4 separate regions of the Homo sapiens genome follow, and all the other regions are reported to be linked to region 3. The links are microRNA targets in miRTarBase. Many come from high-throughput screens and were not tested one by one. Region 3 holds a microRNA gene; each other region holds the end of a gene's coding sequence.
Evidence for each region. The annotated mature microRNA hsa-miR-143-3p reads UGAGAUGAAGCACUGUAGCUC and lies in region 3 at 4,579-4,599, opposite strand. An mRNA with a match to its seed (bases 2 to 7 or 8) in the 3' UTR can be bound and repressed. Matches are read on the target gene's strand: a 7mer-m8 pairs with bases 2 to 8, a 7mer-A1 pairs with bases 2 to 7 and ends in A, and an 8mer does both.

Region 1 (7,106 bases), not on the chromosome of region 3:
AGATTAATCTCTATTGCTCTAGATATTAATATAACTTTTAAAAAACATTGGTTATAATGTTTTAAAAAAAATGAGGCATTGGAATTACATACAAATTTCACTCAACCCATGTGGATTTCCCTGCGTAGAAATTGTACTGTGGCTGAAGTTTTAATCCTTGCTAAGTGGGGTAGTGCATGGATTACATCCCCATGCCTGAGATGGTGGAGCCCCCATTTTCAGGAATTATCTGAATTCCTGGATTTATGAATGTTAATCTGGATCAGCATTTTTTTTTTTTTATTTTTTTTTGGAGACGGAGTCTTGCTCTGTCCCCCAGACTGGAGTGCAGTGGTGTGATCTCGGCTCGCTGCAATCTCCGTCCACCACAATCTCCGCCCCCCGGGTTCAAGCGATTCTCCTGACTCAGCCTCCCAAGTAGCTGGGACTCTAGGCATACGCCACCATGCCCGGCTAATTTTTGTATTTTTAGTAGAGACGGGGTCTCACTGATGATCCACCCGCCTCGGCCTCCCAAAGTGCTAGGATTACAGGCGTGAGCCACTGCGCCCAGCCTGGGTCTGCTTTTTATTGGTTCGCTGCAACATGGAAAAAAACCAGAGACAGTGTAGTGAATTATTTTTAGTAAATGTGAATTTATATAACTTACAATATAGTCTTATATTCCTGCATCATGTACTTCCTACTTGGTTGATGTTAAAAATCCTTTTTTTGTAAAAATGTAATTTTAAAATGTCCTTGGCAAAATATAAAGTTTGTCGATTCTAATTTGGACATCTAATTTTTGGGGGAAGTTTTACCAAATAGTGAAATCTCAAAGTCTGAAAATCACTAAATTTAAAATCAGTGAAATTGATATTGAACCCAATTTGAAGGCTTGATGCATTAAAATTTAATACTTAATAATATCAACCAAGTTCTTTTCAGATCATTAAAAGTGAAATCACAAGTTTTCAGTTTCTTCTAAACTACTGAAGAATTTAAATATGCATGAGGTGGGAAAAATAGGAATAAAGGAGCAGATATATTTTCTTGACCTACTATATTCTCTGTATCAGTGTCATCTCCAGCATCCTTTTTGAGAAACTATTTGGAGATAAAGAAAAATTAAGATTCTTACTAAGCTGCAAGTGAAAATCACTAATATGCCCTTGATTTTACAATAACTGATGCATATAAGTCATTCCCATTTTTGTTTCTTAGTAATTTTAAAGTTAATTTTCTCAATTAAGCTAAGTATAAAGGAGTGTTAAGGTGAAATTGTAAAATATTCATTGTTGCATAATCTCATTAAACCTCAGCTGTTTACATTGTATTCTGTTTCTTCCTCAGTGAGAAAAAGAAAGAAAAGGAGCGTGAAGAATTGTGGAAAAAATTGGAGGATCTGGAGTTAAAGAGAGGTCTTAGACGTGATGGAATAATTCCAACTTAACAAAAACAATGACAACAACATTACTAACCTGTGGAGTCACACGTTTATGTAGTAGAAGATGGAGCAACAGTTTTCTGTATTGTGCAACTTTACAGTAGATTTCACCTTTGTTTCATTATTACAGCAGCACTGTATATACCTGTCTCTAAGTAAAGGAAAAAACAAAATAAGGACTTCAATCCAAAGTTTGGACAGTAGATGGACTTCTCAGAACTTTGCAAACATAATCATTGTTCTCACCCTCTTTTAAAAAAAAAAATCGGTCTTCAAAGATCTGTTGATGAAATTGCTATGTTAAAATTCCATTATCGGGAGTTCCTTATTTATCACTAGCAGAGAGTATGATACAATTTTCAAATGTGAACAATCTTAAATTTAGCTTGTCTTTCTGCTAAGCTGTTAAATGTATTTATAGTAAAGGAAGAAAAAAAGACTGTCATTTCCTTATAAGTTTGTGTAACATCCTCCTCTGGATAACTTGACTGTAATTTAACATCTTTTTCTTTTGCACATCTTCCTGAGTTGAATGTCCACGTGGAATGGGGTCATGAATTATAAAAGTCCCTGATAAAAGTTTTGTTTACTGGGGTGAACATCTTTCCAGTAACCAGGTAGTCCTGGTACTCCTTTAGTTTTAAAATTAGGAGTTAAGAGAGAAGAGGTGATAAACATAGTAGGGAAGGGAATATCGGATTCATGCATCAGTTTATGGTGAATCCAAATCAATGTCTTGAATCCTTTGAAAACAGGCACTGGGACATCACAGGCTTCAGTACCTGACCAGTATTAGTTGCATATATCATTGAACACACATACCAGAGATGTTTTAGAAATGTGAGAAAAACATCCTTTTGGACCATTTGAAATAAGAAAGACAAACACTAAACAATACAACCATGAAATTGATCACCGGGATTGCAAATCTAATTGGGAAAAGAGTTGAGCAAACAGCTTGGACTGTTTGGAGTTGTTGCCTTACTTTTTAATATGTATTTATAAAGTATTCCAGCAAAAGAGGATGTAGCCTCTGGGAAAAAACAAACATGTTACAGTGTTTTTTGTAGATTCTCGTTCTATATCTCATCACAGCGCCAGCCCTGTTTTTAGCCGGAAAGGATTCAGGATAAACATTATTATGCATTCTGAATTGGATGCATATTCCTAACTACTGTATTTGTTACCAAAAGTGGTTCTACAAATGCTACTGAAAAAAATCTGGAAATTCCTAATGTCCTGAGTATTAATAATAAAGTTTAAAAATGCTTTTATATCAAAGGTGCATCGTGACCAAATTGTTTAAGAAAAAAAAACAAAAAAAACAAAATCTAGGGCTGTATTTTATATATATATATATATATATATATATATATATATCTTATTGGCTCTCTGCTTTGTATTTAAATGAAGAATCTTACATCTTGGGTAGGTAAACTGCTGATAAAATTTGTGTACAGTATGTACTTACCTAATGCAGTTGCATTATTACGTACTGAAAGATATGTGTTTGGAGGTTTATTTCCAGGATGCATTTGCTTGTTTTGGTCATGGCAGCAGTGAGTTGGTAATCCTAAACCATCACTTCCAGCAGTATTCATGGTATAGAGCTGATCTGTGTTCATATGTTGAATTGTGATAGTAGCAAACATGAACATATGAACTATTGTTGCTCTTAATAGAAATACAATATAAATATGGGCTTGTATATTTTCTTCCTTACATTTAAATATAAAGTAGAATACGCAGTTTTATTATTTTCAAGAAAAAGAAAGAGAAGCTGCTGACCTTTCTCCCCCATAAAGTTTTTCAGGATGATCAGGTCACAGTGTGTACGTAAGAGTCAGCTAATTATGGATATTGTCATCTCGGTAACTTTGTAAAAAAACAAACAAAACTGGCATTGTTAATTCCAAAAAGAAAAAAAAAAGCAGTAAAAAAAAAAAGTCATATGCAACACCAGACGCAACATGGTTTAATGGAATTAATAGTTTTTTTTTTTTTTTTTTTAAAGAACATTGATGGGGATTCACTGTAAAGTTGGCAGAGGCTGCCAAAGACGAAACAACTGACTTTAAAAATGCTGGAACAATGTGATAAAAAATAAATTTGTAACAAATCTTCTCCTTTTTAGCCCTTGTCATTTTAGCCCTTTAGTTTCAACTCTGCATTATATTTAGTTTATATAGTGTAAACTTTTGTTTGCCATTAATTCATCTTTTTAGGTAGAAGACATTAAAATCACAGGTTTATGAAGAATCTCTGCTCATTGGAATGAAATGCAGTCATTTGAAATGAGAAAGGCCAGGATCCTTTTTTGTACCTTACCCTGTCTTCAAGAGTAAAGGTGAACACTTACAGCTCTCCTCCTTGATGTCAATTTTGTATGTTGATCATTCCAAACTGAGAAGAATAAAGCCACATTTTAGACATATTTATAGAATCAATTAAAGCTATATGTCTAAAATTCGTAGGGCAACTTCTGAGAAGAAACACCGTCTTTTTCTTTTTTAATGGAAAGTGACAATGTGACATTAGTCATGTTGTGTGCGGTGACGCAGAGTAACTGAGGTAATCTGACTGTTGCACTATGTGACATATTTCAGGACGTACTTGCTGCATTTGCAGCAGCCCTCTCTCTCTGTCCCTTCCCACAATTCTGCTGTTGCTGCAACTTGAGTTAATTGTGACAAATGCATCTTTGTGTTATATTTTGTTTGCTTCATAATTTCCAGAACTATATATAAATATATTTTTTAAATAGCAAATATTGTAGTTAGTGAGTGATGATCACTCCAACCTTATCCTTACCATATTGGTTTCAGGGATAGGATTAAGAGTGTCTTTGGAAGAGAAAAATACACACAACCCTGTGGTTTAGAATGACGCTGAGGCCTTAGGCTGTGGGCCTAGAACAACTATGTGAGTGAATTCACCCATCTCATACTTTGAATCAAGCATGCATTCCTGTTTCTCATTGTGAAGTATCCCCAGTTGTTTTCCTTCAGTGTTGAGTTTTTGTCCTTTTAAATTTTATTATATTTTGCTCTCCCTAACATTTGACTGTTTTTTATAAAAGAAAAGAAAAAAAAAGAAATAAATAATACCCTCGATGCCACTGGATACTCACAAGCAGGGTTATGCTCCTTCATCTTGGGCTTGTTTGCCTAAATGAAAGGGTTTAATTTATTTTGTACCTCCTATGCGTGGGATAGTCCAGGGTGCAGAGCCAGGACTTGCTTGTAATTGCACCTGCTATACTTAAATGTATAGCCCTAGGCTCAATCACACTATGGAAAGAAACAAAAAAAGTATATTTAGAGCTTTAAAAGCTTTTTTATTTTTTTGTGGGGATGAGGGTGGGATGGGAAAGGGATGTATGGATGTTATTGGCATTTTTAAGTGTTTAGAGTTTTTTGGGGTTTGGGGTGGTTTTTTTTCCTTGTTTTCCTTTTTTCCTTTTAATTGGATGCACTGACCTGGCCCAGGAAATGAAGAGATTCTCTTTTGATGCTATTACCAATGTTATCATAAAGTGACAGTCACCTGTAACAAAAAGGTGGCACCAGACATGATCACTGATGTTTTATTTGCACATCAATATTTTTATTTTTGTATTCTGGCTCAGCTGCTTCTCTGAGTGGAGTTAAGGAATGAGCCACAAAGATTTTTGTAGTAGGTATATTGGCATTGCATTTTATATTCCTCTATATTTAATTTTGAAAACCTAAAAGAAGGATTGTGCATCTTGAGAGAAAGTTGAGCAAATTGTGATCTAGCGGAATGTTAATTTGTGCTGCTTCTTGTGCACGATAGCAGCAGTAGTATCTCTCTTGGAAATAAACATCCCATATTATGATGTCTATGAATATAGGTTTCCTTTTCTTCCTTCCCTCCCTCCTTCCCCCACCTTTCTCTTTTTTTTTTCTCTCTCAGCTTCTCTTTTCCTCCTTCCCTCTTCCCTTCCTCTTTCTTTACTTTTTTTGAAATCACTTATTGTAAATAAGTTGTAATCCAAACCTCATGTATCAATGGGGAATTTTCAAATATAAATATTACCAATGCATTTTCTGGTTGTTGTCTGATTTTTGATTGAAGTATAATGAGAATGACATGTCTGTTGCTTTTGGTTTGAGGACTTCGCTTTAGCTTCATAAATCTTTTGGTATTTTAGTATTTCATTGTTTTAGCAGGAGAGGGCAGCAAAAGTTCATTTTCCCTGTTAGTAATGCTGTGGTTCATGATCGGTTTTAAATTTAGCTGTGTGTGTGTTTTTTTAAACAGCATCTCTTTGTGAGTAGAGGTAAAAATGAAACATTTTTGATATGAAAAGTTGCATATGAAAATTATAGACTGGTTCAACCAGACAGTGAAGACTTCTGATCCACATCAAACTTAAAATGCCACAAAACAATCTTCCACCTCTGGCTAAAACATGCTACTTCCTTTTCAAACACCACAAAATACAAGCTGAGTCTTAAACACTTGGAATTTAAAATGTTTTTCTTTGGAAATGATTTGCTTTCTTCAAAGTGGTAACAGAAACAAAAATGAAGGTGCTCCCCAAAAAGAAATGTAACCTTCCCCTTTCACAGATGTGTGAGAGGTTCTGTACTGTGGGTGCATCATAATAAAGAAGCAGTGAAGAGTTTTCAGGTGCCTGGCTGTTTTTGTTTGTTTGTTTCTGAACTCCGTGGCCTTTTGAACCATACAAATATTAGATTTGATTAACTTAGCTTTGAGGCAGTGGGGTTGGTATGTTCAGGCTTTCATTTTGAGAAGTCAGTTTATGATTATGAGTATGTAATATTGGGAAATGGTCCAGTATCGGTTGCTGTATAACATACTACTCCAAAAGTAGAGGCTTAGAAAAACAACAATTTATTCTCATCACAAATCTATAGTTTGGGAAGGACTTGGCAAGAACATCGTGTCTCTGATCCTCGAGTGTCAACCAGGGTGTCACAGGTGGGGCAGGAAACTTCACTTTCAACATGGCTCACTTACATGGTTGACAAGTTAGTGCTGACATTTGGCTTGGAGTTAAACCAGGGGTCTCAGTTCTTCCTCACAGTACTTTCTTCTTGGGCTTCCTCACAGCATGGCAGCTGGGTTCTAGGAGGCAGGAAGTGGAAACTGCCTCTTCTTTGAGGCCTGGGCCCAGAAACTATCATGGCATCACCTCCATCATATTCTATTGGTCAGGCGGTCACAGAACCTGCTCAGATTCAAGTGGAGGGGGCATAGTCCTCACTGTGAATCAATGAGAAGTATTTTCAGTGATTTGCAGTTATCTTTAAGCTACCATGGGATAGTTTTTTTTTTTTTTTGTAAAGTATTTGATTTAGGTGTGATCTACGCCCTTAGCTAATTAAATTACATCAAATTGGAACCATGTGGAATTAACCAATTAATATTTCATATTAAAATTAATCTGGGTTTGGAAGGGAAAAGCCCTTGTATATGTCAGCAATTTTGTATTTCAAAGCATAACCACTTGTAGCACCTGAAGATCAACCTCTTGGTAAGTTAGAAATAAGAAACTTGTAACAGAAAATTTTAGGGTTCAAGAGACTTAAGAGATGATTTTAAGAAAATATTTAATTCTTTGCATAATGTTGCTTCCTGTCTATAAGTAAATATTTACAAGAATGGATGCAAAGTAAATGTACACTAAAGA
Region 2 (7,124 bases), not on the chromosome of region 3:
TTCTTAAGGCTGAATAATACTCCACATGTTGTTTATCCATTCATCCACTGATCCATTGATAAACATCTGTGTTGCTTACTCTTCTTGGCTATTTTGAACTGAGCTGCTATGAATATGAATGTGCAAATATCCCTCGTTGAGACCCTTCTTTTTTTTTTTTTTAATTTTACTTTAAGTGAGACCCTTCTTTTTTTTTTTTTTTTTTTTATTTTACTTTAAGTGAGACCCTTCTTTCAATCCTTTTGGGTATATACCCAGAAATGAGATTTCTGGATCATATGGTAGGTCTATTTTTAATTTTTTTGAGGAACTATCATGGTTTTCCACAGTGATAACACCATTTTACAACCCCACCAACGGTGCACAAGGGTTTCAATTATTCTACATCCTCACAAACACTTGTTATTTTCTGCTTTTGTTTTCCTTTAACATAGCCATACGTATGGGTATGAAGTGATATCTTGTAGTCATTTTGATTTGCATTTCTAGAAAATGCTATTTTATGAAGCACATTCACACTTTCAAGGCAATATCACAAACAATATTTATACATCATAGCACCGATTAAATAAGGAAAACAAACTAGACAATAATTTTTTAAACTTGGATAATTAGAACAATAAAAGAAATGGAAGTTAGATTATTTGTGAGCTCACTGAAGACTACAGCCAAGAACTTTAATCTCAAGAAAGAATTGGAAAGCCCTTCAAAATCCTAAGAAATGCTATTATGTGGTCTAAACTGACTTTGATGACGGATCTTGCCACTGACAAGTAGTGTGGGAGAAGCTGGAAGATGAGATACTAGAAAAAAATGTCCTCCTTATTAATCAGGAAAAATTAGAATCAAGTAAATATTTTAAAGAAAAGAGAAATGAGTAAGATCTGTGGATTTTTTAAAATAGGTAATTTTTCAAAAAGAAAATTAGATAGAATTACACATTTGTAAGACCCATAAAATATTGGTCATGTAACTTTGGAAAATGGAGGAAGAAAATAAACACACCTGTAATACACTTCTTTTAGATGTCAATGGGATTCCCAAGTGGAGCTGCCCTATAGAGGAGAAACCAGAAACAGGTGCCAATATTAAAGGTCAAAGCTGGAGTAAGAAACATAAGTCATCTATGTATCAAAACCAAATCCTCGTTTTAAAAAGGATTAGTACCCTCAGTACAATTATAAAGCACTAAACTTTGGCTCAAATACAGAATGGTCTTTGGGTGAAAACATAATCCATTCTGAGCCAATTAGAATACATACCTCAGTAAGCAATAGGATTGGATATCCACTTCCTCAACCTTTCCCTTTTAAAGTTTACAAAACTGACCATTTTGTGAACGTCTGCTCTAACGACCCAGATAAACACCAGCCAAGCTTTCAGAAGGAGGCATCTCTAAGCCAGAGGAGCTTAGAGATCTCTAAGCTTGCTGGGTTTTTCTACAGAAAAGTGAGAAAGTAAGAAGGAACCATCTCCTACCATATCCAGTTATTAAAATTAAAATGACCTTTTGTCTCTTTCTGTACAAAAAAGACTGCTGTATTCTTCCACAATTCAAATTGGGAGGAATACGGTAGTAAGGATTTAATTCACTACTTTATAGCTTACTAGCTCCATGATCCATTACACCCCAAACAAGGAAACATGTGGGTGGGGAGGGTGGCTAGAACCATCAATAAATTTAAAAGAGATTCTAGTGGAAATAAAATTAAAGCTACAGTCAAGAAACCAGATGTGAGTCTTGCTATTAATTACAATACACTACTTAAGGATTTCACCTAAGTGCCTTTTCCCCTTCACTTCTGATGGGCTTCATTACATTCTATCCCAAAATATGGCGCCTTGGCATTTGAGAAAACTGCAGAAGCAGGAAGGTATCTCTGACTTTCCTCTCAGCCTTCACCCCTGAAGTAGGCCATAACAGAATTATCTGACCTTCCTCCCTGCAGTCGGTCATAAGACCCCCCCTTCCAGAGGTATCCTGCCTGTATCTGAATTATAGGAACATCCTTATCCTCAAAGACACAGGGACACCAAGAAGAATTGAACTGACAGGCCTTGTTAAGTTTCCCCCAGCGTATTGCTATTAGATCACACCGTGTTGTCCTCCAATCATATTTTTCCACAACTATGCACTTCATTATCAAACCTAGTATTAAAAAATGCACTAGTTGTCCAGGCACAGTGGCTCATGCCTGTAATCCCAGCAATTTGGGAGGCCAAAGCGGGAGGATCACTTGAGGTCAGGAGTTCAAGACCAGCCTGGCCAACATGGTGAAACCCCATCTCTACTAAAAATACAAAAATTAGCTGGGCGTGGTGGCGCACACCTGTAATCCCAGTTACTCAGGAGGCTGAGGTGGAAGAATCGCTTCAGCCCGAGAGGTGGAGGTTACAGTGAGCCAAGATTATACCACCACACTCCAGCCTGGGTAACAGAGCGAGACTCTGTCTCAAAAAAAAAAAAAACACAAATTTACCTGTTTCTTTGGGCCTTCATTTTTGAAGGCTCCCATATTGCATAAAACTTATATTAAATATATTTGTATGCTATTTTCACTTCTTAATCCATCTTTTGTTACAGGAGTCTCAGCCATGAACCTAGCAACAGACGAGCAAAAAAAATCTTTTCCCCCCTACACTTCCAACATACAAAAAATAGGTTTAATAAAAAGCTTTTAGAACCAGAACATTTTTCTTCTAAGAATATTTTATTCTTTCATTCATATTACTTTAATATTCATACATGTATTCTGCCATGTAAATAACCTTTCCAAATTATGTATCAGTCTATTTGCATCATGTCAAATTTTCAAATCTCCATATTTTCACAAGATATATATTCTCCTTTGGAATCTTTCTGCACATTTATATGAATAAATTAAATAGTATCTCTACAAACATATTCAAGTAATTATTTGTTTTGGGTTATTATGTAACATGAAATAATTATATATCAATGCAGTATTTTTTTCATATGTGACAGTGAAACAAGGTTTTTAAACAAAAAACTGATTTTATTAAAATAAAATTTACATAAATTATGAACAGTCTATTTGTATGAAAGCCCCTCTTCAGATATATTTTCCACTTGGCCATATGTAACACATACCTTAGCATGACATAAAATTCCAAAATCATTCAAGTAGTAGAGCTAATAAATTTGAATTGTATTTTTAGTGTTAAAAAGAAAAAAATGTAACTATTTAAGATTCAACGAAGGTGATTTCTCATTTTCCTACTCTTTTCATCTCTCTCTCTTTTTTTTTTTTTTTTTTTTTTTTTGAGATGGAGTCTCACTCTGTTGCCCAGGCTGGAGTGCAATGGTGGGATCTCAGCTTACTGCAACCTCTGCTTCCTGGGTTCAAGCAATTCTCCTGCCTCAGCCTCCTGAGTAGCTGGGATTACGGGTGCCCACCACGCCCGGCTAATTTTTTGCATTTTTAATAGAGACAGGGTTTCACTATGTTGTTTAGGCTGGTCTCGAACTCCTGACCTCATGATTCACCCATCTCGGCCTCCCAAAGTGCTGGGATTATAGGCGTGAGTCACCGCGCCCGGCCCTCTTGTCTTCTCTTAGCCTACTTCTCAGAGTTTGTTTCTAAGTGGAAGCAGTCCTCCACCAAAGCACTACCATGTGGTTTTAGAATGCTCTGCCTGTTTTACACCTGTTGAGAATAAAATGTTTGGACTTATGAGTAAGCCCACCAAGACAAAATATTGGGATGTCAATAATAACCTTTTTAAAAATGGCTGGTTCTTCAGACAGAGAAAATAAAAATCACCATACATTTCTACCCCAGATTAACTTCCAAAAAAACAAATAACTAGCTAGACCTGTTCAGGAGTATGGTAGCCACATGTGTGTGGGGTCCCCTAGTTTTCCTCATTTTTGTCTCTGTCCTGACCAAGTAACACATGGTGCCTTGACCCAGCCAGCTGATGTTTTCCTCTGCAGGTCTGAACCCCAGCCTGGGCCTTGAACATTCCTAGGCACTGATAACGGTGCTTAGGTTGTTGCTGGAAACACTGAAAGATCAGCCGTGTTGCTAAACATGTAGAAGCCAGCCCAGCCCCCACCCAAATTCCTTACATCTTCATGTGAACTCCATCCCCCAACCCCCTCGCTGGGGACATGCCCAGGTAGAACATCCCTTGTCTCACTGCCCATCACAAGGACGCTGCAGCCCATGCTGTATGTAAGCTCCCCTCATAAATGCTTTGGACTGATCACCCTGCCATTTAGTGCTTCTTCCTTTAGAATCGCAACTGGCCCCACCTTGGAACGGTTTGGAGCACTCTCTCATGGGAATTTTCCATCAGGTCAAACCCAAGGCTGGAGTTAAATGTGGCTATTTAAATTTAATTGAATTGAAAGATGGGTTCTTCAATCACATCAGTCATTGTTCAAGTGCTCAAGAATCACATGTGTCTGGTTTACCACGTTGGACAACGCAAATACAGAACATTTCCGTCACTGCAGAAAGCTCCACTGGATGGTACTGGGCAAGACCACAGAGGAGATGATTCATATAAAAATATGCCACTATATGCATATTTTCCTTCTTAGTCACAAAAGCTGCTTGTTTTTGTTTTTTTTTTTTTAGTTATAACAATAATAATATTGTTATTGCTGTTTGTTTTGCTTTTGAGACAGGGTCTCACTCTGTCACCCAGGCTGGAGGGCAGTGTCACAATCACAGCACACTGCAGCCTCGACCTCCTGGGCTCAAGTGATTTTCCCACCTCAGCCTCCTGAGTAGCTGGGACCACAGGCACATGCCACCACACCTGGCTAATTTTTTGAATTTTTTTGTGGAGATGGGGTTTCGTCATGATGTCCAAGCTGTTCTCAAAATCCTGTTCTCAAATTCCTGGGCTCAAACAACCTGCTTGCCTCAGCCTCCCATAGTGCTGGGATTATAGGTGTGAGCCACCGTGCCCGGCCAAAGTTATTTGTTTAAGCTTATTTATCTTCAACACCATCAGCCACAACCTGTTTATTTTAGCCCAAGACAGTGGTATAAAAATAAGAGATTGTGTCTAATTTCTCCAAATCATGTGATGTGACATAAGAGCCCAAAGTCTTGTAATGAATCCCACCTCTCCCAAATTCAAACAGCCCATGGGCTCCCTCTGGACTGAAGCATCTTTGCTATGGGCAGAGTTGTCCTGTGGTACCCACAAGGAAGCCTTGCTAGGAACTCCTTATCAGTGTGGACTGGTCATCTCCATTACCCTACATGGCCATCTTGGAGGAAGGGACCCTGAGGGCGTTGCCTTTGCTCTTTACTGAGGTGTGTCCCAGGACCCCCAGGGTGACCACTCAGGACTGGATGGCCATCCATGAAGGCCACTGAAGACTTCCCATGAACAGCCAGGCCCACACTTCCTCAACTAGATCTACCCACGCACCATCTGAGCATCTCATGCCCAAAGCATGGGCAGATATTCCAGCCTTTGTTTCTTCAAGGCCTAGATTGTACCTACAAGTCTCTCCTGGGAGTCTACACTTGCCAAAATATAACTTAAAACATATGGAAATAGCAGTTTATATAAACTCAAGGAAGATTATTCTCAGTAAAAGAAACTCTTTCAAAATAACAAAACACTCTCATCTGATTAGTCCAATATAAATGCTCTTTTCACAATCCCTTTATCTTTTTCTTTTCTTTTTTTTTTTTTTTGAGACAGAGTCTGGCTCTGTCACCCAGGCTGGAGTGCAGTCGCATGATCTCGGCTCACTGCAACTCCACCTCCCAGGTTCAAGCGATTCTCCTGCCTCAGCCTCCTGAGTAGCTAGGATTACAGGCAACTGCCACCATGCCCAGCTAATTTTTTGTATTTTTAGTAGAGATGGGGTTTCGCCATGCTGGCCAAACCAGCCTCGAACTCCGGACCTCAGGTGATCCACCCACTTCGGCCTCCCAAAGTGCTGGGATTACAGGTGTGAGCCACCACACCCGGCCCCTTTATCTTTTGATTCCTGAAAACAATGCACTTAACTTCAGTATTTGGTCTTTTAGTTATAATTCTTAAAAATAAGACATTTTAAAACATATTAAATGTGCATTATTTGGAAAAAAGTATATGCAAATGAACCTGGAAATATCAATATACAAACCAATTTTTCAATTCTCCAGTCCATGGAGGGAGATACTCATGTATTTGACATTTGAAAACCATTTTTTTTAGCAACTATGATAGTGGTTTCTAGACTTTGTCCTTAAGCACAAGCCATTCTTCCTATATGACATGATCATAACAAAGATTTATATATAGCTCCAGAGAATAGTGAGATTTGCAGTCTTCTGATGGATATCAAAGTTGAAGGCTAAAAGACACTTTGGTGGTATAGCTGGGAACAGATTCTGTAACAGAAAGAAAAAAGTATGCTCAATCATTCACCATTTTATTATGAAATCTAGCTACGTGCTATGACATACATAATGAATGTATGTCAATACACCCATTATTGTCACTTCATGTTTTAAGTATAGAGATACTGTATAGGTGATAAATAATGCATTTGTCACCATTAAGTAAGTCATCACAAATGTGCAGTCAAACTTTAGAAATGTTTAGATCTAAGAATCGTTAACTTTCATTCTTTTGCCATCTTTCCAGCCAACTCACAGCTACATCAAGATCTTGGAAGCTATATGACCCTACAGTATTAATAGTTGACAAAATAGAAATAGATGGTCACGGACTTGGGACTGTGGCTAGTAGGTGGCAGAGGGTACCGTTTATAAGAGAAGTTTGGGCTGTTCCTAAACCATACACCATCTTTGAAAGTAAACCTTCTCTCAGCCTGGCTCTTCCCACTAGTTGCTGACCCCTCTTCTCTCTCCCTTCACAGCCAAAGTTTTGTCAAAGGATGGTCTATACCAATGGCTCTCAAAGTGTACTTCTCAGACACAAGGCATCAACATCACCAGCGAGCTGGTCAGAAGTGTACTTTCTCAGGCCCTGCCCCAGGCCTGATGAGTAAAAACTCTCATTCCTATGTTCACTAAAGCTTGAGGACCAGTGAGGGCTTCACATCCTTATCCTTCTTGAATCACACAAAGTTGTAGGCCCTTGTGGGCAGATTAAATCTACTATTTTTTCACTCAGACATT
Region 3 (7,124 bases):
ACTTCCTCGCTCTCTCTCCCCGCTGCTGCCATGTAAGACGTGCCTTGCTTTCCCTTCCTCTTCTGCCATGACTGCAAGTTTCCTGAGGCCTCCCCAGCCATGCAGAACTGTGAGTCAATTAAACTTCCTTTCTTTATAAATTACCCAGTCTCAGGTGGTATTCTTTATAGCAGTGTGAAAACGGACTAACACAGTGGTTTTTCAGGTGGTGTTTTTTTTTCCCCTCAAAATATGGCAGTTTGGAGGATCACGCCAAGGCAGATAACCATGTGAAAAGTGTCCTCATGTGCTGGCCACGCTGCCTATGGCACAGCTAATGTCCAGTGTTACTGCAGGGCCTGGCTAATGTCCAGAGGCCACTGTGAATCCAAACACCTGTGTGAGATGTGAACTGGCTTCACATTTCACACTCTTTCTTATTTGACCTGGTCAGTCACACCATTGTGACTGACAGAGAGGGGTTGCCACATGGCTAGATCCCAAGTGCCCCAAGAAGCCCTCACTGAGCTTCAAGGGACACTCTCCATCCCCTAACCCTCCATACCAGGGAAGCATCCCCAGACATGGCTGCTTCCTGGGGCCTCCAACTGCCAGGATGTGGGTCCTGACTGCTATCTATGTGGCCTCCCAAAGTGGCTGTGTGGAGCCACTTGGGGGTGTTCAGCTGGGCCTGTCAGGTTCTTTCCCTGCCTTCGCCACCTCCCCCCTTCCCCAAATTCCCAGAAAGAAACAGGACAGGAGCCAAGGGCTGGAACTTTATTATTGTCACAGAGCACAGGAGAGACCGCTTGGGTCTCAATGAAGGTTTGCTTTTCCTCTTCTCCAGGGGAAGCTACTGCAAGAAGGCCCACCAGCCAGGCTAGGTCAAATGGGGTTGGGGCCACAACATGATAGTTAAACCCATAAACACAGACTTGATTCGATCCCAGCTTCACGACTTCTTAGCTGTGTGACCTTAGGTAAGTCTGTTAACCTCTCTCAGCCTTGGCTTTGTGGAGTGGAGTGAAGAGCAGGGCCTGCTTCACTGGGGTGTTATCAGGATGGAGGGGGACAAGGCCTATGAAAGTGTTTAGCACAGCGCCTGGCAGATCGTGACCAGTCACGGAGTGGAAGCTATCATGATCAAATCTGATTTCTCCACGGTCAGGCCAGCCCTGTCACTACGGATGAGGAAGAGGGGGTCTCATTTCATAAATGCCTTCAATGCGGCCTGTGAGAAAGACAGCTTGGGACACCTGTGTGAGCTGCCTAGTCTCTGGCAATGTGGGAGTCGGACCCAAACATGAGGGTTCTGGGGCCTTGGCACTTACTACCATTTCTACATCTCCATGAAAAGCCCTAGCAAGAGTACGGGGAAAGTTCTAATTTTTTTTTTTTTGAGACAGAGTTTCGCTTTTGTCCCCCACGCTGGAGTGCAGTGGCGCGATCTCAGCTCACTGCAACCTCTGCCTCCCGGGTCCAAGCAATTCTCCTGCCTCAGCCTCCTGAGTAGCTGAGATTATAGGTGGCCACCACCATGCCCAGCTAATTTTTTGTATTTTTAGTAGAGACGGGGTTTTGCCATGTTGGGCAGGCCGGTCTTGAACTCCTGACCTCGTGATCCACCCGCCTGGGCCTCCCAAAGTGTTGGGATTACAGGTGTGAGCCACCGCGCCCGGCCGGAAAGTTCTGATTTTGCACCTGGATTACATTAGGTCTTCTGTCATTCAGTTAGTTAGCATTCTCTATAGGCAGTCAGAGAGGCTGACTTTTAAAATTATTTAGGTATTTTTTAGAGACAGGGTCTCCCTATCTTGCTCAGGCTGGAGTGCATTGGCTATTCACAGGCACAATCATAGCTCTCTGCAGCCAGGAACTCCCAAGCTCAAGTGGTCCTCCCCCGTCGGCCTCCTCAGTAGCTGGGACTGTAGGCACTCACCACTGTGCCTGACTTTTTATTTTTGTAGATTTTGCTTTTGGCTAAGAAATTGCCATAGGCCATTGGACTTGAAATCAGCGCTGGCCCTGCCTTTTGCTGTCTGGGCGACCTTGGGCTGGCCACTTTACCTCTCTGAGCCTCACTGATCCCACAGATCTACGTAAGGAGGGCTTTGAGGATGAACCAGCCTGTGGAAGTAAATGAGAGGAAGTGATGGGGGCATTGCTGGTGGTGCAACAATGGAGAGGGTTTCAGTAGTCACTGGCTCAAAAGTGAGGGGGCAAAAGGAACCTCAGTGTGTGTGTGTGTGTGTGTGTGTGTGTGTGTGTGTCCAACGTCTTGTAGCAAGGTTAGCAATCACCATGTGTAGGGGAAGAGCCATAGTGTTCCTAGGGTGGGTAGAGATGCCACAAGAGGGCGTTCTGAGTTTTCATCTTCTCTACCTTGAAAAATTTTCCATTTGTTCTCTGGCTGCATTCCAAATCGAACGAAGACTTAAGGTTTTTAGTTTACCTAACTGATTGAATACACTTTTAAAATGAATTCATGTGTGTTTACTAGTTTATCAGTCATGTGGATGCAATACCGCAGCCCCTGTCGCAAGGCGCGTTGGGAAGTGGGTTGAGGGTGTGGTGGAGACAAGAAACGCATGCCTGATGGTGTCCTGGTTCAACCGCTGCTCAGCCGGGTGGCCTTGGACAAATTTCCCAAGAGTACGGCAGTGCTGAAGTTCCCACATCCAGCCTCACAGGGATGTTATGAAATAGACACGATGGAAAGAAAAGCAACGCAAAGGTTTGGAACATGGTTCATAAGCCCTCTTACCTCCAGGGACAGCCTTCTTCTTGAACCCTCATCCTGTGAGCCAGCCGAGGCCCCATTGGGGGGCAACTGTGGGGTGGGAAGGAGGCAAATCCAGCTGTGAAACCATGACCTCAAGAACAGTATTTCCAGGAATCCCCATCTTAGCATCTAAGGGATTCCTGGGAAAACTGGACCGTGAGGACAAGGTGGGAGCGAGTGGCCTTCAGCGCCAAGGCCGCCGTGTCCCTAAGGACCAGCTGGAGTTCTCTTCTGCATCCAGCCCCATCTGTAGCAGCCAGGGTGGGGTGCCACACGTCGCCGGATGTGGCTTATTGCTCTGGGGGGGAGTAGTGACCGGAACTTCAATTGCCCTGAAAAGTACCGGAAACCCTCTGGCGCCCCCACCCCCAGGACTGCCCTCTGCTGTCTGCACGGCTCATGTGTATTCCCCAGTCTCCTGCCAGAGGGGTGGATTTAAACCAACCATTCAGTTCCTAGCCTGGGTTTGGCAACTTCCTCTCTGATAACCTCCAGTAAGTCACTTAACCCCTGAGCCTTGGCCTTCTTTAATTATAAAATGCATGAGTCCACGACCTACTGGAGAGGTGAGATGAATAAGATTGGGGGAAGGGGGTAGGAGGAAGGAAGCCTGTAGTATTAATGGCAAGTGTCCGGGTCTGTCTTTGCTAAAAGTGACCTGAGATGTAAAGACAAGATGGGAGCAGAATTTAGAATGTTCTCCTCCTGCTCCTCGGTCCCAGGTTCCATAATCACATGCAATGGGTAAAAACATGGATTTGAAGGCAGATTAGGGTACAATCTCAGCTCAGCACAATCAATATGTGACTTTAGGTGAGCTGCTTAAATAAGCCTCAGTTTTTCTCATCTGTAAAATGGGGCTATAACACCACCCACTTCCCAAGCTTTTGGGGAGGTTAAATGAGACTGTGCTTGGCTCCATGGCTCTCCTCTGCTGCTCATTGTGCTTCTGAAGCCTCTGGGAGAAGTCAGACATTTGTGACGTGCCTGGACTGGTTTCGGCAATACCCCGGAGCCAAGGTTAGAAGTACAGAGTGAAGACCCTGACTCAAAGGCCAGAATTTTTATCTTCAGGGCTGAAAGGGTTTTTAGGAATTGTTTGATCCACAAATGATGAATGAGTTTCAGCTGTGAATCAGTACTAGTGGCTTTCCAGGGCTCATTGTTGAGGATTCTGAAGCTGCATCTGAGCACTTCAAGAATGGATGCCTGGCGGGGCGTGGAGGCTCATGCCTGTAATCCCAGCACTTTGGGAGGCCGAGGCGGGCAGATCACCTGAAGTCAGGAGTTTGAGACCAGCCTGGCCAACATAGTGAAACCCCATCTCTACTAAAAATACAAAAATTAGCCAGGTGTGGTGGCGCACACCTGTAATCTCAGCTACTTGGGAGGCTGAGGCACGAGAATTGCTTGACCCTGGGAGGAGGAGGTTGCAGTGAGCTGAGATTATGCCACTGCACTCCAGCCTGGGTGATGGAGTGAGACTGTGTCTCAAAAAAAAAAGAATATATGCCTTTACTGATTAGCTGTGTCTGCCATGGGCTCAGAAAGAGAAAGCAGAGGCAGGGTGCTGGGGAAATGCTAACGCCTCATGCTAAGATGGACACACTGGGGTACACAGAGGAGTCAGGACATGCCCAGACTCGTGAAGCAGATCGTGGCACCAGGGGAACTTGTGTAGAGGAACTTCCCCAGCATCACAAGTGGCTGATAGTATGGAGTCTGGAAACACTCTGTCCTTCCTGTTATGGCCCCCCACAACCCCCCAGCACTTACCACTTCCAGGCTGATGGCTGCAGAACAACTTCTCTCTTCCTGAGCTACAGTGCTTCATCTCAGACTCCCAACTGACCAGAGATGCAGCACTGCACCTCAGGCTGGGAGACAGGGCGCTGCGCTGCTCCGCTCTGGTGGCCTGTGGCGGGACTCCAACCTGGCCAGGAGAAGGGGTGTTAGAGGGGACCTGGGCTCCACCTCTCCAGCTCTGGCCGGGAGGCTGTTGTAATTCCTCACAACTGTGTTTCCTGTCTGTGGCCTGCCATTTGAGCACCCAGGACCAAACCTTGACCTTTTTTCTCTTCTTTTCTTTGTTTCTTTCCTTTTCTTGTCAAGAACAGCTTAATTTAGAAGGAGGACATTTAGTGAGTACAATTAACAGGTTTTTAATATATTCACAAAGTTGTGCAAACAATGGCACAATATATTTTAGGTTATTTCACCATCCAAAAAAGAAGCTCCTTATCCTTAGACAACCCCTAGTCCTGGGCAGACCAGTTTCTATCTCTATAGATCTGTCTATATATTTTCTGGATATTTCAATACATGGAATTATTTAATATGTTGACCTACCTTTTGATGCCATGCCCCACCTTTATGCTTGGCGCATTCCAGCCTAACAGCATCATTCATGGTACTTAACATTTTATATCATCGAGCAATCAATTGTCTCCAACCTATCTTTCTTCTGCCACTCCTCCTCTCTTCCCAGCCATCTTCCCATAATGATTTTTCAAGATGCAAATATGCTCATATCTTACTCAAGTTTAATATCCCAAAAGGGCTCCCCATTGCCCTCAGGCTGAATTCTGAAGCCCTTCCCAAAGCCTGCGAGGGTCTGCCGCATCTAGCCCCAGTGACCTCTTCCTCTTGGGCTACAGCTCATAGATGTCCTTCCATTCTCCTAGGGAGCCCTGTGCCCACCCACTTCGGGCTCCCAGGGACTGTGCTGCTCCCCGTCACTCTCCCTGCCCATCTCTTCCTCCTGTGCTAGGTCTCTAATCAAGTGGCCACTCTGGGAAACCCTCCTTGACTTTTTTTTTTTTTTGAGACAGAGTCTCCCTCTGTCGCCCAGGCTGGAGTGCAGTGACACGATCTCGGCTCACTGCAAACTCCACCTTCCGGGTTAAAGCAATTCTCATGCCCCAGCCTCCCAAGTAGCTGGGACTACAGGCGTGCACCACCATGCCTGGCTAATTTTTGTATTTTTAGTAGAGACAGGGTTTCACCACGTTGCCCAGGCTGGTCTAGAACTCCTGACCTCAGGTGATCCACCCGCCTTGGTCTCCCAAAGTGCTGGGATTATAGGCATGAACCACAGTGCCCAGCCCCTCCTTTACTTCTTTAGCCATCAGCACCCCCTGCTTCATGTTCTCGCCCACCCGGTGCCCTCTTTCTAACCCTTTACCATGCTGGTAATGTGGTTTTCACTTACGACCACCTCCACTTGTGGACTACATGGCTCACCTGTGAAGGGAAGGGACCCTGTCAACTGTGCTCACTACTGAAATCAGGGCCAGGTGGTGTAGATGCCACATAAGCCCAGGTTGAATGGCTGAATCATAATTCCCAATCTCATTATCTCTAGTATCAGTGTTATTTGTGTGTGGGTCTGACCTGGCTAGATCTCCACTTCCTGAGGACAGTGCCTGTGTCTTGTTAATTTGGGGGGCCCTGGGTCTGACCTGTGGCTTGGTACATGATGATGGACCTAGGTAATGCCATTTGGTGGCTGATTGGATGACCATGTAGATAATTCATTTTGTTTTCTGGGCCCGGCTTGGGTGGGAACTTTCAGGTGAGCAGGCAAAGCCCCTTCTCACTCTTCCTGCCCTGCCAAGATCTCAGGGCACCCCAGAGGACCTTCTTGCATTGCTTAGTGGTCACTGTGGTGGCCTTGATGTTGGATGACATATATTTTCAGGAATGTCTGAAGGGGATGGGTAGCCTTTCTTCAGGGCTGAGAGAGAACAGAAAAAATATACCTCCTTAAAAAAACAAAAACAGAGCTGGGAGCAGTGCTCATGCCTGTAATCCTAGCACTTTGGGAGGCTCAGGCAGGAGGATCGCTTGAGCCTAGAGTTCAAGATCAGCCTGGGCAACATGGGGAGCCCTTGTCTCTAATAAAAAAAAAAAAAAAGGCTGGGAGCAGTGGCTTACACCTGTAATCCCAACCCTTTGGGAGGCCAAGGTAGGCGGATCACCTGAGGTTGGGAGTTCGAGACCAGCCCGGCCAACATGGTGAAACCCTGTCTCTACTAAAAATACAAAAATTAGCCAGGCGTGGTGGCGGGAGCCTGTAATCCCAGCTACCTGGGAGGCTGAGGCAGGAGAATGGTTTGAACCCGGGGAGGTGGAGGTTGCAGTGAGCCGAGATCTTGCCATTGCACTCCAGCCTGGGTGACAGAGTGAGACTCCGTCTCAAAAAAAAAAAAAAAAGTCTGTCTCTTACACTCAGTCTGGGAAGAGTGGAAAGAGTGTTTCCCTCTGGTCTATCATGCCAGCAGGCAGGTCAGTAGGTCAGTTCTGACAGCCTGTGTAGAGGACAGCCTCTGTCTAAGGTATTCCCAGCCAGATAACTGCTTTC
Region 4 (7,124 bases), not on the chromosome of region 3:
CCAGCCTCATTTTTTGCATGTTGTCCAGCACTATTTATTGAAATGACTAATCTTTCCTGCTGTTGAATTTTCTTGGTAATCTTGTTAAAAATCAGTTGACCATAGATATATGGGTTCACTTCTGGATCCACAGTTCTGTTCCATTGATTTCTGTATCTGATCTTAGGCCAGTTTCACACAGTCTTGATTACTGTAGCTTTGTAGTAAGTTTTGACATCTATAGTTTTAAGCATTTTAATTCTATGTTGAGCATTTTTATTCATGATTTTTTTCTAGCCTTCTTAAGTTTTCAAGGGGTCCTGGATTTCATAGACATACACATACATGTATATGTTTGTTTGGAGGCTGGATCTCATAACAACATCTTTCCTAGGTTTAATATTTTAAATTAGACTAGTGAAAGGTAAAGAGGGGTGTATAGTAACCAAATTTACAGGAATTAAATGCTTAACATGTTAACACCTGATATATTTTTCTCTTAACATTTTAAAATAAAGTTTTGAGGTAAATTTTATTTAAACAAATTGGATTTACTGAAATTTAGAAAATCCTGTATTGAAATATTAGTTCCGACACTTGTATTATAATTTAATTGTGAGGTAACTGGTATCATGAAGTCTGGATCCCATAGGTAACACTGAAAAGACATTATGGAAGGGAGAAATCAAAATATTTTAAGTGAAGAGATAATAAAGACAATGCAAGATGATTACATTTCTTGATATGTATAATTGGAATGGGATTTTCAGTTTTCCTCTTTTTCTTCCCATTTTTAGATCCAGCTATGGGACACAGCAGGACAAGAACGATTCAGAAAGAGCATGGTTCAGCACTACTACAGAAATGTACATGCTGTTGTCTTCGTGTATGATATGACCAACATGGCTAGTTTTCATAGCCTACCATCTTGGATAGAAGAATGCAAACAACATTTGCTAGCCAATGATATACCACGGATTCTTGTTGGAAATAAATGTGACTTGAGAAGTGCCATACAGGTACCCACAGACTTGGCACAAAAATTTGCTGACACACACAGTATGCCTTTGTTTGAAACGTCTGCTAAAAACCCCAATGATAATGACCATGTGGAAGCTATATTTATGACCTTGGCTCATAAGCTTAAGAGCCACAAACCATTAATGCTTAGTCAGCCCCCTGATAATGGAATTATCCTGAAGCCTGAACCAAAGCCTGCAATGACGTGCTGGTGCTAAATAACAGTCTTTATTATATTATCTAATTTTGACTAAAGAAATACTTTTGAAGTATGACAGTATTAAGTCATAAGATTTAATCTCAACTATAATGGGTCATCTTGACACTTTGCTGTTTGTCATTGTCACGCTTTTGTATTTTGTATCTACTTAAGTTTGTCACTGTGACAACACAGGAAAAGTTGGTTTTCAGGTGAGATTGAAAATGAAGCAAAGATAGGATGAATCTGAACATCTCTCCATCTAGAGCCCAATGAAGGAAGCTTCAAATGAGAACATGATGGAATCAGTAACCATTCAATCTTTTGTCCTAGGATTGGAAAAAAATGTTAAAGGTTTAGGACACACCTAATAGTATGTCCTTTGAATGGGAAGTGTTCTTAATAGGATAAAAACTGGTATTTGCCTCTCCCCAGAGTACTTTTTTTGTTTTTTCATAGAGACGGGGTCTTGCTATGTTGTCCAGGCTGGCCTTGAGCTCCTGGGCTCAAGCAATCCTCCCACCTCAGCCTCCCCAGTACTGGGACTGTAGGTACTCACCACTGCATCTGGCCTTTCTTTGTTTTATTAACATATTTAGTTTTGTTATTATTGGTATGTTTTAGAGCCAAGACTTTAGTTCCAGTGGGATAAGAAGGCATAGAATGTTTTCTGGTTCCCAGTCCATAAAGAATGACTTTTCCAAGAGTTCTAGATGTTTGATTTTCTAATTAATACTTATCAGATCTACAAAAATCATTATTATTTTAAAAGAGTTATTTGAGTTTCTTTCTTTCTTTTTTTTTTTTTTTTTTTTTGAGATGGAGTCTCGCTCTGTCTCCAGGCTGGAGTGCAGTGGCGTCATCTCGGCTCACTGCAACCTCCGCCTCCCAGGTTCAAGTGATTCTCCTGCCTCAGCCTCCCGAGTAGCTGGGATTACAGGCGTGCACTACCACACCCAGCTGATTTTTGTATTTTTAGTATAGATGGGGTTTCACCATGTTGGCCAGGATGGTCTCGATCTCTTGACCTCATGATCCACCCGCCTCAGCTTCCCAAAGTGCTGGGATTACAGGTGTGAGTCACTGCACCCAGCCGAGTTGCTTTCTTACTAAATCCTATTAAAATATGCAAAAATAAGTCAGATTTTAAGGCAAATAAAGTGACATAAGGTGCTTTATATTTTATTTTGGTATATTTAAACAGTGAAAAACTAACTGAAAGCACATGAAGAGTTGTAACTTGGGGGAAAATAGGTAAACATAGCTTCTAGCTAACACAGGAGACCTATTCTTAGCCTTTACTAATTTCAAGCAGTGTATCCCATATGGTATCTCTTGCTCTTCCTTCAACTCCAATAAATTTAATGACTAAATGCCAAGTTAACAAATCAACTTCCATTTGGATTGTAGGTGTGAAGGCACAACTCTAATTGCTATTAGTCTACATGTATTTCTGTAATAGTATTGTGTCATATCAATTTTTAAGATGTCTAAATTTTATGGTCACAAGTTATCCCTCCTCAGTATGAAAAATAAATTAGATATTGAAAAATGTCTAAACTTCAGTGATGGAAAGAATATTTCAAGAAGTTTTTTAACCTAAATACTTTTATTTTGAATTTAAGTCTTTGCACATAAAATATAGCAAGCTTACATATTAAACTATTTACGTAAATGGAATGTAAGCCATGACTTTAACTGAAGTGTTCACATTCACTAATTTTGATAGATTGCTGTCCTTAATAATTTTGGAGGAAATTAAGCCAAATGATTATTGTACTACAGTATTTTCAGAATATGGGAAATCAATTAAAAATGTAATCTAATCTAGTTTAAGATTTTTGTTTAATCATCATGGTGGTCCTACCTGGATAATTTAACTATAAAGACAAAGTAATTCTATTAAATGAACTAACTGAAAATAATAATTATAGGAAGTGATTATTCCATTTTAAGTATTAGAGCTCAAATTGGCTTTATTTGCATTTAGGGAGATCATGTTTTCTTAATCATGCTGGAATTTAAAAATTGTTTTACTTGTATCGAAATTAACCTTGATTTATAACTATTTTTGTAATAAAACAATGACAGCTGTAGTAACTATGATGGGTGTAACAACATTTTTTTAAAGAAGGGAATCTGTTTATCGCTTTTCAAAATATTTTCTAAAGTGGGGGAAGAAAGTTTATAGACTTTCCAAGCACATTTATGGTTTTTTATTACTATTATTATGGTTTTAAAAAGAGTAACTTTATTTCTTTTTGTAAGGAATTAAGTAATATCCTTTACAGTTCTGTGAAAGGACTTATTTTTTAACTGTAATATTTATTAGTTTTAAAATATTTGTATCTCATTTGTAACAATTTGTTTTAATTTTTTATATATATGTTTTTATTTTTAAAAAACATACCAGTTGAATGGGGTTAAAGCTTTCAATATCTTAAAATATTTATAAAACATTTCACTGTTGCAAAATCACTTCCAAAATGATAGCTATCTAACAACTAATTACTAATTTTTAAAGAACAAATCACACATTTAAAAAATCTGTAGAATTTATTTTAACTATGACCTTTAATTGAAAATAAATAATTAAAATATCAGACATGTTTTGGAAAAGTCTTAATTTGAGAACACCAAAGGAAACTACCCCAGAATCTAATGTAGTTCGCTATTAATAACAATGCATTATTGAAAGTATATTGCAAATACATGTTTCCTCATGAAATCTAAGTAATTTTGTTGTGGAATAGTGTCACTGTTACATTTCCCCCATGAAGTTCAATAAACCAGCTTAGCCACAAAGAAATTGTGTTTTATTTTCTTTGTTTGGTTACTGGGTAGAGTATAAAATAAAACAATCTTTTTTTCCTCCTGGTTTCCAGATAATATTATATATATGATACACTTTTGAAAACAACAAAAAGCCCCCAACCCATTGGACAATTATTTTCTTGTATACATTTGAGGTCAAAGAACACTTCAGGAAAAAAACTCAACAAAGTATTAAAATTAGCTGATAACACAGCTTTTGTATTTGTGTGTTTTAGTAATCCAGCTTGTTTTAGAATAGTTCAGTGCAAAAAGCAAATGGTGCAAGAGGAGTTGATGTGTATTTAGACGTAAAAGCATTTAACAGAATGAATAACTATAGAAAGTATGAGAAAAGAGAACGAACTACGTCTCAGGTATAAGATTGCAGTTACTGATTTAGACACCATAGGATTAGGGATGTGGGGGCCTCTGATGTTGATTCTGCTTCCCCTGGTCAGTTTATTTTACGTATAAGTTACCCTTGTGTTCAAACACAAAATTGACATTATTCATGAAGGACTGCTTTCTTAATCAGATATTAAGAAGTTCGTCATGTATTTTGGGAGCACGTTTGCTACAGCCTGTGTGGCAAGGGCGAATGCACTTGGTTTGTTGGAATAACCTGATTTATCAAACATTTATCAAGTATGGGTCATGTGTTCTCTATTTGTGTTAGTGGAGCTACATAGACACTGTCCTTGAAGAACTTACAAAATAGTATATGAACAAATAGGAATTCTACAATATACTGTGATCAGTGTAATCAAAGAAGCATATACAAAGGACAATGAGCACAGAATATGGAGTGGTCTTTTGACTTGGATATGGGAGCAGTAGATAATCAAAAAGCTTCACAATGAGTGGAAGCATTTATGCAGCATCTCAGGGTAAATGTGAGGCATTCTCCATGTAAAGGAGAGGGAAGAAAGTCATCCCAGGTGAATGCACTGCAGGGCTCAAGAGTGGAGTTGAATTTGGGGGGAATGACTGCTAGGTCAGTGTGAGTATGTGATAGAATGGAGATGTGGTCAGAACACGGAAATGAAGCTAGCAAGGTAGATTTTGGTTAAACTGCCAAGTTGCCATAAGCAGTGGGATTAGGACTGGCTTGGGTGCAGTATCTGAAACTCAGTCTGAACCAGCCTATAAGGGGGATTTTAATGTAAGGAGTCTGACTTGTCTCACTGGACTTGAAGACAAGGATGTGACTGGACTAAAAGAAGAGCTGGGATTGAGCACACAGTTTCCTAACTCTGGGTCCAGCTTCTCTGCACATCTGCATTTTCTCTTTCTTTTATAACTAGATTTTTCCATTTTTTAAGTTTAATTAGCAGAAAACATGGCCACTGAGTACTTCTGAACTTTTGGATGCTGCAGTCATTCAAAGAGAAATGAACTCTCAGTCTCAAGTTGAAATTTCCAGCATAGACTGTTAATTGGCCTGGCAAGATCCAGGTGTCCACCCAAGACCAATGGCCAAAAAAGATAAAATAAGCAATTTCCACATTTAGGGGAGAAGGTATTTTGGGGGAAGGGGAGCAAAAAAAGAAGATAGCCACACAAAAACATTTGAACTTTACTATTTAGGCAATGGGTAACTAATGAAAGCATTTTGCAAGGTAGTGAGACCGTTAGATTTATGCCATAAATTCCAGCGGCAATGGGAAGGGTGAGGGGATGAAGTCATGGTCAGTCAGCTTACTGAAATAGCCTAGAAGAAACAGCTTTAACTGGAGCACTGGCAGAAAAATACAGATTTGAGATATTTCAGAACTAAAACCCCCAGGAGTTAGAGACCAAGGTCAGGAATTTCATTGCATGAACTAGTCAGTATTCTTTTCTAGAGCTGCTAGTTGCACTCATGTATGTGGCCAAATGTTTTTTTAAAATATCAGGCTTTGGTTTTATTTTTTAGATTATTACATTGCTTTAATTTGCCTTTATCAAAAGTTTGATTCTTGTGATTTATTTACATATATGTTTTTCAGAGTGTTTTGAGTCAGATGAAACTTGTCATTTAAAATTTTTAAGTTGTATATCCTAATGCTTTTTGGTATTTTTCTTGTTCTGAGTAGTTTAATTATAGAAGATTCTGTATATTTTTGAGTCCCAGAACATTCTTTAAATTACAAAAACAATTCAACTTTTGTTTTGGTTATTCATTCCATAAACTTAACAGAGTATATGGAGCCATTTTATTACTTCTCAGCTCCTCATTATTAATCTTTTCTTGCTGCAAATGGAGAGTTCCATGTTTCAATAAAATGTGATCAGTAATGGGACTTCTTTTTTTAAGTTAAATTTTTGTATAGGAAATACATTCACATGGTTCAATACTTGAACCATTCACAAAAGAGTAAATGGTGAATTCTCCTTCCCACTCTTTCTCCCAGCTCCTCAGTTCTTATCACAAGGAACCAGTACCATGAATTTTTTTTGTTTCTGTTTTTGTTTTGAGACAGGGTCTCAATCTGCAACCTAGGCTGGAGTGCAGTGGTGTGATCTCAGCTCACTGCAACCTCCACCTCCTGTGCTAAAGCAATCTTCCTACCTCAGCCTACCAAGTAGCTGGGACTACAGGTGCACGCCACAACACCCAGCTAATTTTTTGTACTTTTTGTAGAGCCACGGTTTTGCCATCTTACCCAGGCTGTTCTGGAACTCCTGGGCTCAAGTGATCCATTCACCTTGGCCTCCCACCCCAGTTCCCACGCTGGGATTACAGGTGCGAGCCACCACACCTGGCCCCTGAATTTGCTGTTTCTTCACATAACAGTATACCCTGGAGATGAATTCATGTTAAAATATGTAAGCTTCATCATTCTCTTTTAGGTCTCATGGAATTCCTTTAGTTGGCCATTATTTAGATAGCCCTCTACTGATGAACATTTAGGTTGTTTCCAGTCTTGCTATTACAAGCATTACCAAAATGGATATCATTTTACATAAGTAATTTCTCAAATGTGTGAGTATATACAAAGGGAAAATTCCTAGAAGTGACATTGCTAGATGAAAGGTATCTGTGTTTGCAATTTGGGTTTCTAATCGCCCTCCTCAGAGGTTGCACTAGTAATAAAAAGCATGCCTGATTCCTCACACACTCACAACACAG

Region 1: the mRNA of PPP2R5E is a reported target of hsa-miR-143-3p. Seed matches in the 3' UTR shown: 7mer-m8 at 3,290-3,296 and 7mer-A1 at 4,364-4,370.
Region 2: the mRNA of LRRC2 is a reported target of hsa-miR-143-3p. Seed matches in the 3' UTR shown: 7mer-m8 at 4,521-4,527 and 7mer-A1 at 3,285-3,291.
Region 4: the mRNA of RAB33B is a reported target of hsa-miR-143-3p. Seed matches in the 3' UTR shown: 7mer-m8 at 2,058-2,064.

The regions. Positions count from the first base shown.
Region 1 is chr14:63,370,335-63,377,440 of GRCh38, reverse strand. It overlaps PPP2R5E (protein phosphatase 2 regulatory subunit B'epsilon), which reads left to right. Exons shown (of 14, transcript NM_006246.5): 14 at 1,333-6,077. The coding sequence ends at 1,432. Among named protein-coding and RNA genes, the nearest start is that of GPHB5, 55 kb to the right of the region's middle.
Region 2 is chr3:46,512,693-46,519,816 of GRCh38, forward strand. LRRC2 (leucine rich repeat containing 2) reads right to left here. Exons shown (of 9, transcript NM_024512.5): 9 at 2,693-6,371. The coding sequence ends at 6,322. Among named protein-coding and RNA genes, the nearest start is that of RTP3, 18 kb to the left of the region's middle. RefSeq lists a silencer at 4,307-4,601.
Region 3 is chr5:149,426,453-149,433,576 of GRCh38, reverse strand. It overlaps MIR143 (microRNA 143), which reads right to left and starts at 4,659; the gene lies at 4,554-4,659. CARMN (cardiac mesoderm enhancer-associated non-coding RNA) reads right to left here. Exons shown (of 5, transcript NR_105060.1): 4 at 4,538-4,694; 5 at 741-859. MIR145 (microRNA 145) reads right to left here and starts at 2,931; the gene lies at 2,844-2,931. RefSeq lists enhancers at 1-280, 2,297-2,591.
Region 4 is chr4:139,471,910-139,479,033 of GRCh38, forward strand. It overlaps RAB33B (RAB33B, member RAS oncogene family), which reads left to right. Exons shown (of 2, transcript NM_031296.3): 2 at 777-4,700. The coding sequence ends at 1,217. Among named protein-coding and RNA genes, the nearest start is that of RAB33B, 21 kb to the left of the region's middle.